Linked DNA regions of Homo sapiens. The protein of the gene in region 2 purifies or fractionates together with the protein of the main gene of each other region. This does not show direct contact. Each region holds a gene or a part of one and is shown on either strand. Other genes may lie near its edges.

Region 1 (3,826 bases), about 68 Mb from region 2:
AGCTATCTAAAGTTTGTTTGGTGAAATGATGAAGTCTATCTGCTTCACAATAGTATAATTTTAATGTTAATACCTGACCATCAGTAAAACTTCTCAGTTTTCTTTTTTTCCTAAACATGGCTCGACTGGAAATAGAGTTTGGCAACTGGTATGCCAACGAAAAAAGCTTAACGGCTAATAACTGGGAAAATGCCTCATTTAAAAATGTACTTCAATAATAGTAAAAACAATATAAACATTTAAACTAGCTTATGCGTAAAATAATCTTTCAATGCTTAAAGAAAGAAATTTCACACTGGGTAATATAAAAAGGAATGGTCTTTTCAGCCAAAAGCTACACTGTTTTCATTTTTTAATTTATGTCCAGGATTATGTACACAATACCACCTAACACTTGAGGTAAAAATAGAGAACAAAGCACAGAAATACAACTAACACAGAATGAGAAAGGAAAGAAGGTTACTATAAAATTTGGGCTAAATTAGACAAATACAAGAAAAAAATCAGTGCTTTGAGGAAGAAGGCTACATGATAATTTTTCATAAATGACATACCTAACAGTATAATATCTCATGACTTCAAACTAAATAAGTTATTATGTAATTTCACTATTAGAACCATGCAGAGGGAACTCCAGGTTATTTTTTAATGTTTTTCATTATGCCAGCTTTAAAGGTTTACACATTCTCCTTTGTAATTACCCAGTATCTAATAAACTGAAAGACATACAACAGCAAAAATAGAGAAAATCATGGAGTCTTATAGTCTTATTAAAAAAAAAAACCCTTGCTTTTGTCAAATTCAAAGTATAACTAAGTTCTCTCTCTCTAACTTTCTCTAATCACAAAAGATTTTCTGTTCTGAAATGCCAACATACACCAGATCAGCTAAGACAATTACTCTATTCACTACACTGTGAGTTGCCTCCTCACTATGAACTTCTGGAAAATAAGAATTATGTCTTATTTATTCATCTTTGTATCCTCATGATCTAGTTCAGTGTCTGGCTCTAGAAATCATTAAATAACTTTGTGAAATCAATTCAGTAAAATAACTTCATCATCTTAGATTTATAAGAAAAAGTTGCAAATGTATAGTTATTTTAGGTTTACCATTAGGATTTTCCTTACAACAATGCTAATTTCAATCCCCATTAGTGTTGTGATTTTTTTAAAGAGGAACACTAACAAAAGCAGAAAACTTCAATTAACTGCACAATACAAAGATAGTACCTCTTATGCTAGAGAGGAAAGAAAAATCTAGCAGTCAATATTCTATAACTGATTACTACTTGGTTTTGAAATCATTGCTATTTTGCAGTAAAGTTGGCATTTTATTCAACTTTTCTCAAGGCTAATGCAGATATATCTGGCCTGTCTCTAAAACTTTGTACACAGGACAAATTTCCATAAAGGCTCATTAATTTAAAAAATGCTGTCAATCAAAAAGAACCATAAGACAAAGACACCCGTAACTATCCTATTTTATATGTCACTCCTAATTTTCATATACTAAATTTGCTTAAAGTAAGCTACAAATGTATTAAAATAAATTAAGCCCACTAACCATCAAGGTGTGGCAAAATGTATCAAAAATTACTGAATGCCAGAAGTAAAAGCCAACTCAGCACAGACTTAGAGATGGATATAAGTCATATATGTATTCATATTAAGGCCTTATTCTTTTAAAAGAAATGATTTTAGTGTTCTCCTACTGCATAATACATTTGATACAGGTCAAACTACATTGTCTGGGACCATAAAACAAGTACAAAAGATGATCAAACAGTAATAGCCCCTATGGGCACTTATACATACCAGGAGCTATAATAAATACTTTGCATTTTCATTAATCATCAAAACCATCACTTCAGATAATATTAATGCTCTCATTTAAATGAGAAAACTGAGGTCCAAAGAAGCACACATTCTGCTTTAGGTCACACAGAAAATGTTAGAACTAGGATTTGAATCTAAGTATGGCTAAATTACTTCAAAACTGTTTCCTGTTCCATGCCTGTCCACTATTGTGCCATCCTGATTTCATAGCACAAGACCTTAAATCCTTCTGTAATTCTGTTAATATTCCTCTTTTCACTAAATGAACAACACATTTTAATATTCCTCTTCATTTAACTGATGAAGTCCCAATAAGTACACTTACTTCCTACACAATGAGCTTTTAGACATCTATTGCTAATTACTATTACTGACTACTACAGGAAATTCCCATACCATTACTTTTCAGCAGTATTTTGATCTGGATTGATACAAATATATGACTGGATTGATACAAATATATGAATGTTATATCAAAGACTGTTCAAACTACATTCTTAAATCAAAAAAGTTTATGAAATATTCCATTTACATCTCATTTTTAATTAGGTATTAGATCTATTTTTAAATTACATGCTTACTGAAAATTAAAGTTTGGAAATTACTATCCTAATTAAGCCTCAGTTAATTCTTAGAACTAAAAATCTGAAAGACCATTTTTACCCATCTTCATTAGATGGCTTCAGGGGCTTTTGTAATTTGTCTTATAAAAATCACGCACAACAAACATTACCAAATTATTAAAGGAAGTCTAATAAAATTTGCGATTATCAAGCAACAGTCAACACATAACTCTTACCAGGCTTCAATGAACCATGTTCTTACCTTTTTATCTTTTTCTAAAATGGTCTGGTCTCTCTGCTGTAAGAGACGCTTAAGTGACATCACTTCTTCTTTCAATTGACTTATAAGGACAAAATTGTCTGTTCCCCCACTATCTGCTGACTGATTTATAGAGCTACTAAAAAGAAAAAAGTAAAACACAGTTAAATGAAGTAGAAGGAAAATTAGCAGGTGTTCAAATTGCATAAATTAGACAATTCCACAAACATCCTTAAGGCTAATGCAAAAAAATATGTACCTGACAGAAATGGATGCAACTGGCAAATTACCTTACTAATGGCACACATTACATACACCTGCAGAAATATAATTCAGTATTAGCTTTAAGGGGGTCAATACTTCTAGTGTAAAGCAATAGGCAGCCAATTTGTACAGTAACATCAGCAAACTTTTGGCTAATGAACTAAAACAAAGTAACGCTCATAATATTTTTAATCTAAAAACATTTTCTAAGCAGGTCAATTTAAAATATCACAATTAGATTTGTGTTTCACTGAAGAATAAAGATAAAAATAATGTTCTCCATTCAAATTTGTTTCTTCAAAACCCAAATTTATTTCCCAAATAGAACAACATAGTTCAGTGCCACTTTCTTATTGCCAAAATTAAGCTAAAAATTTTAAACTAATTTATGTTTATTCTTCTAGGTGACTCAAGTCAATGTAGAAAATACATGTTTCTATTTTTTTATCTAGTAATAACTGGCATTCAACCATAACTATTCAACTAAGTTGAATTTTCATAACACTAAAAGAATTCATTTTTACCTATCTCCATTAGATGGCTTAGATTCCAATTTGGGCTTTTTCTTTGGAGTTTCATTCTGAATTGTTGCAGAGGATTTATGGCTGAAACCAAACATTAATAAGAATAGTTAGAGTAAAAAGGACAGAGAAACCAAATGATAAGTTATTCATCTTCCCCTAAAATATTACTGAAAATACTGATTTTGGTAAGACTTAAGTAACAAAGTTGAAGGGATATCACATTTATAAATATACATTTCAAAATACTTCAGAAAATACAGCAATGTATTTACCTCTGTTTCCACAGTCCCTGCTCTTCTTCTGGACTTAGATTGCTGATTCTGAAAAATACACAAATGACATCTAATAATGACATTTATTTATTTAATACATCTAAAT
Region 2 (3,826 bases):
TTATTAATACCATTAGGCATTAGATTCAACAATAAAGATAAAAAGTTAGAATTAAAATTTAAAATATTGTCCTACAATTTAAACATTTTTCCACATTTGTAAAACTGGATTATAATAATAAAAGCAGTACCACTCTAAATATGTAAAAATCACAACAGAAGACAAATTGACCACAGAATAAGTATTTTTAAAATTTCGAATGTGTGTGATCCATAGAAGAATATATTAAAATTAAAAGGAAAAAATGCAGCCATTCAATGAACATCTTCACTCAATTAAACTATTTTTGGACATATATCATGCGCAGGTATTCATCTAGCTCCTGGAAAACTGAACAAAAGAGGCAAAAATCCCTGCCCTTATGTAGCTTACAATCCAGTATAAGAAGTAAACAACAAGTTGAAAGATATAATGGAAAGAGATCACAAACAGGGGAGTAGTAATTGTAAAGAAAAGGAGGAGATGATTAGGAACAACAGAAGAATTCTAATTAAGCCTTGATGACCGAGAAGACAGCTGAATGAAACAGAGAAATGGGAGGATGGATTTACGAAGGAGAAATGGGCAAAATGGGTTGTTTTAGATTTGCAGACTTGGAGGCACTTGCCATAAGGATCCAAAAGGTCAGGCCTAGAAATACAGACTTGGTGACTGCCTGCAGGCAAATATTAGTGCAAGCCACAGGAGGGAAAAAGGAGAAAAGTAGAGGGCAAAGGGCAGAAGATAGAGACTTGATAAATGTCCACCAGGATAGAAAAACAAAACAAGCCAAAGAAGAAAGACTCTAAGAGAAGTATTTTTTAAAACCTAGGTAATGAAGTATAATAGGAAGAAATATTTTGCAAAAGAGATGTCAATGTGTGTATCCATTTTCCCCTCCTTACTTGCTCATTCTTTTTCTGAACCCATTCCTTGTGCTTTTCTTCAGCAATTATCTTTCTTTTTTCACGTTCTTCCATTTCTTTTCTTTTTTCTAGTTGTTGATTTAATTCCTGTGGATTTTATTTAGACAAAAGGCAACATTTAATAGAAGTACCCAAATAACATACATTTTAAAAGTCTGAGGTTATTAACCAAATTAAACAAGAATATAGTTTCCTTTATGGAGCATATGCCACTAGTGGCAATAACTTACTTAAGTAACCAGTCTATGATGAAAAAAAGCATTGGTAAAAGTATAAGTCATTTTTTAGAAATGTGCAAATAATTGCTTGGCAGCAAAACACTAGTTTCCTAGACTAAACTTCAGCTAAATTACCCTCATTGAAATCAACTTTCCCACACATAAATTTTGGCATCACTCTAAGCTACTGGCAGAAGCTCAAGAGAATTGCAACTTTTTTTTTTAAACAGTTATAAGAAGCTTCTGGATTCCTGATGAAGATAAAGCATAGAAATTAAATAATCCCTATATTAAAAATTTAATTCAGTTACACAAAAGAAATACAAAGAAACCATTCAATTTTCCTTAGGGAAAAAAGAACCCAGAGTTTTCTTCACTGGTTTTATAGCTGCTGAAGTGTAAAACAAAATCACATTCATATCCCAGATTATTTAACTGCCTTGCTGTCACTCGAATCTACACGTTTGGGCATTTCCTCAGGAAAAAGAATGTGAAAGGTATGGCCAAATAAAACTACAAGTTGAATGCCACCACTCTGTCACTCATCAGTTAAATTACTGCATTGGTTTAGAATGCTGTTCAAACTAGACTTCACTAGGACTCCACAACCATAATTACTGGTTATTTTTCTTCTCCGTCTTTAGATACTAATAGTCAGATACCTTACGTATCTTCTGTTGGTCTCCACACTCCTCCATAGCCCTTTCTTTCCCAAAGACCTACCTACTTGGGCATGGGTGGTAGTGGGAAAGACAATTTTCCAACCCTCAGACTAATTCCAGTGTCTTAAATGAAGATAAAACTTGACACCAAGAACATCTCTTTTGCATTTTAAACAACTGGTCACAGGAAATCTGTCTTCCATAATCACTCATCCTAAAATTCTGCTGCATAGAAGATAGCCGCCCTCACTCAGGAAGTCTTCCAACTTTTAAACACTATACCCCCAAAAGCAAATATCCATCTTTAAGGATTTTTCATCACTTCAGCAGCTATTGTTCTTTGATGACTTACTCAGTATACTTTTATGGTACACCTACTATGGACCTAGCAATAACTGATATAAATCTGATATAAAGATGAAATCCCAGAAGTCTCTGATCTGATTTTCTATACACTAAAGAAATAAGTGCTACATTGCGAGTTATTGCATATCATAAAAGTTCAGAGAAGGGAAGGGAAGATGAGGAGAAACATCTTTCCTTCCCCCTAGCCTAGTCTACCAGGCTAGTCAGAAATGAGCACCATACAAGGAACAGTGAAAAGATGGCTTCGAAAGGAGAGAGATTGGGAGGTGGGAGGGGGTAGAAAATTTGAGCGTGGTACTAGGTAGATGGAGAAGGTCTTTTGAGACAGGCAAAGTAAAGTGAACTATATGAAACAAGAATACCCGGCAAAAGGGAAAATTCAGAGCTCTTAATGACAAAGGCTGAAGACTGCATTTGAAGGGATGAGAACTATTCTGAGGAAGACTGACGAAGAGTGTGCCATAGTATATGAGTTATAAGAAAAAGAAGGCCTGGGCCTCTGGGCCAGGCGCAGTGGCTCATGCCTGTAATCCCAGCACTTTGGGAAGCTGAAGCGGATGGATCACTTGAGGTCAAGGGTTCGAGACCAGCCTGGGCAAAATCGTAAAACCCTGTCTTTACTAAAAATACAAAAATTAGCCAGGTGTGGTGGCAGGCGCCTGTAATTCCAGCTACTGGGGAGGCTGAGGCCGGAGACTCGCCTGAACCTGGGAGGCAGAGGTTTCAGTGAGCTGAAATCATACCACTGTACTCCAGCCTGGGTGACAAAGTGAGACTCCATCTCAAAAAAAAAAAGGAAAAGGAAAAGGAAAAGAGGGTTTGGACTTAGGAAACAAAAGGGGGAAAAATTATACATATATATACATGTACACATACAAATACATGTGTATATATGTATGTTTATATGTGCATGTGTGTATATATACAAATATATAAATATGAAAGACATTAATTAATTGGCTAGATATAGACCTGACAACTACATATCAAAAATTTTCCAAAATAGTCCCAAATTTTATTTTCAAGAAAAGTAATTATTTAAATGTATAACTAAAGACATGATTGACTATATATTTATGTACCTTTTAAGATTCTTCATTTACCTAAACTAAAAAATCAGAAAAAAAGAAACCCTGTACTCCTATTTGATGGCTAACAAATTTTAGTTAATGTTGATTGAAGGGTTAAAGAAAAAGGGTCAAAATGTATCTAGAAAATGCTACCAATAACCCAAACAGTGTTCTAATCTTGGATGTCTGTTCAAGTAATTTGTCAAACCAGAATATACATCACATTTTGAGACACAACCCTCCCTTCCAAGTCTGGCCCTTCTTAGAATTTCCCACCCTGAATGACTCCATGTTTACCACAAAGGCCAGTCTCCTTCAGGACACAGCTGGAGTCTTCCTTCGAAAGGCCCCTACATGGTCTTCTGGTATACCACTGAATTTCAACAGGATTACAGATAGCTATTAATATTTTCCCGTGGAATACAACACTTGATTATGGAAAACCAAAATCCAAAGAAGATCTTAAACATGCATTTTTATTTTAATAGGTTTTGCCTACTTTCAAATAATTTTTTACCACTGAAGGTAATAATAATCAGAAAAACTGACAGTTTTGAGTTTCACCAACAGCTCTATATCCTGCCCTATTCGTTCGTTAAGGGCTC

The links.
Region 1: the proteins of CCDC34 (region 2) and FAM76B purify together in Homo sapiens (affinity purification with mass spectrometry; one large-scale study listed by BioGRID and IntAct). This does not show direct contact.

The regions. Positions count from the first base shown.
Region 1 is NC_000011.10:95,776,159-95,779,984, forward strand, and holds part of FAM76B (protein FAM76B), read right to left. Parts: intron 3,791-3,826; coding exon of another isoform or gene 3,769-3,790; coding exon 3,721-3,768; intron 3,530-3,720; coding exon 3,449-3,529; intron 2,978-3,448; coding exon of another isoform or gene 2,968-2,977; exon of another isoform or gene 2,920-2,967; intron 2,800-2,919; coding exon 2,664-2,799; intron 1-2,663. UniProt on the Homo sapiens protein: Negatively regulates the NF-kappa-B-mediated inflammatory pathway by preventing the translocation of HNRNPA2B1 from the nucleus to the cytoplasm.
Region 2 is NC_000011.10:27,349,448-27,353,273, forward strand, and holds part of CCDC34 (coiled-coil domain-containing protein 34), read right to left. Parts: intron 993-3,826; coding exon 885-992; coding exon of another isoform or gene 801-884; exon of another isoform or gene 1-800. UniProt on the Homo sapiens protein: Involved in spermatogenesis. Has a probable role in anterograde intraflagellar transport which is essential for the formation of sperm flagella.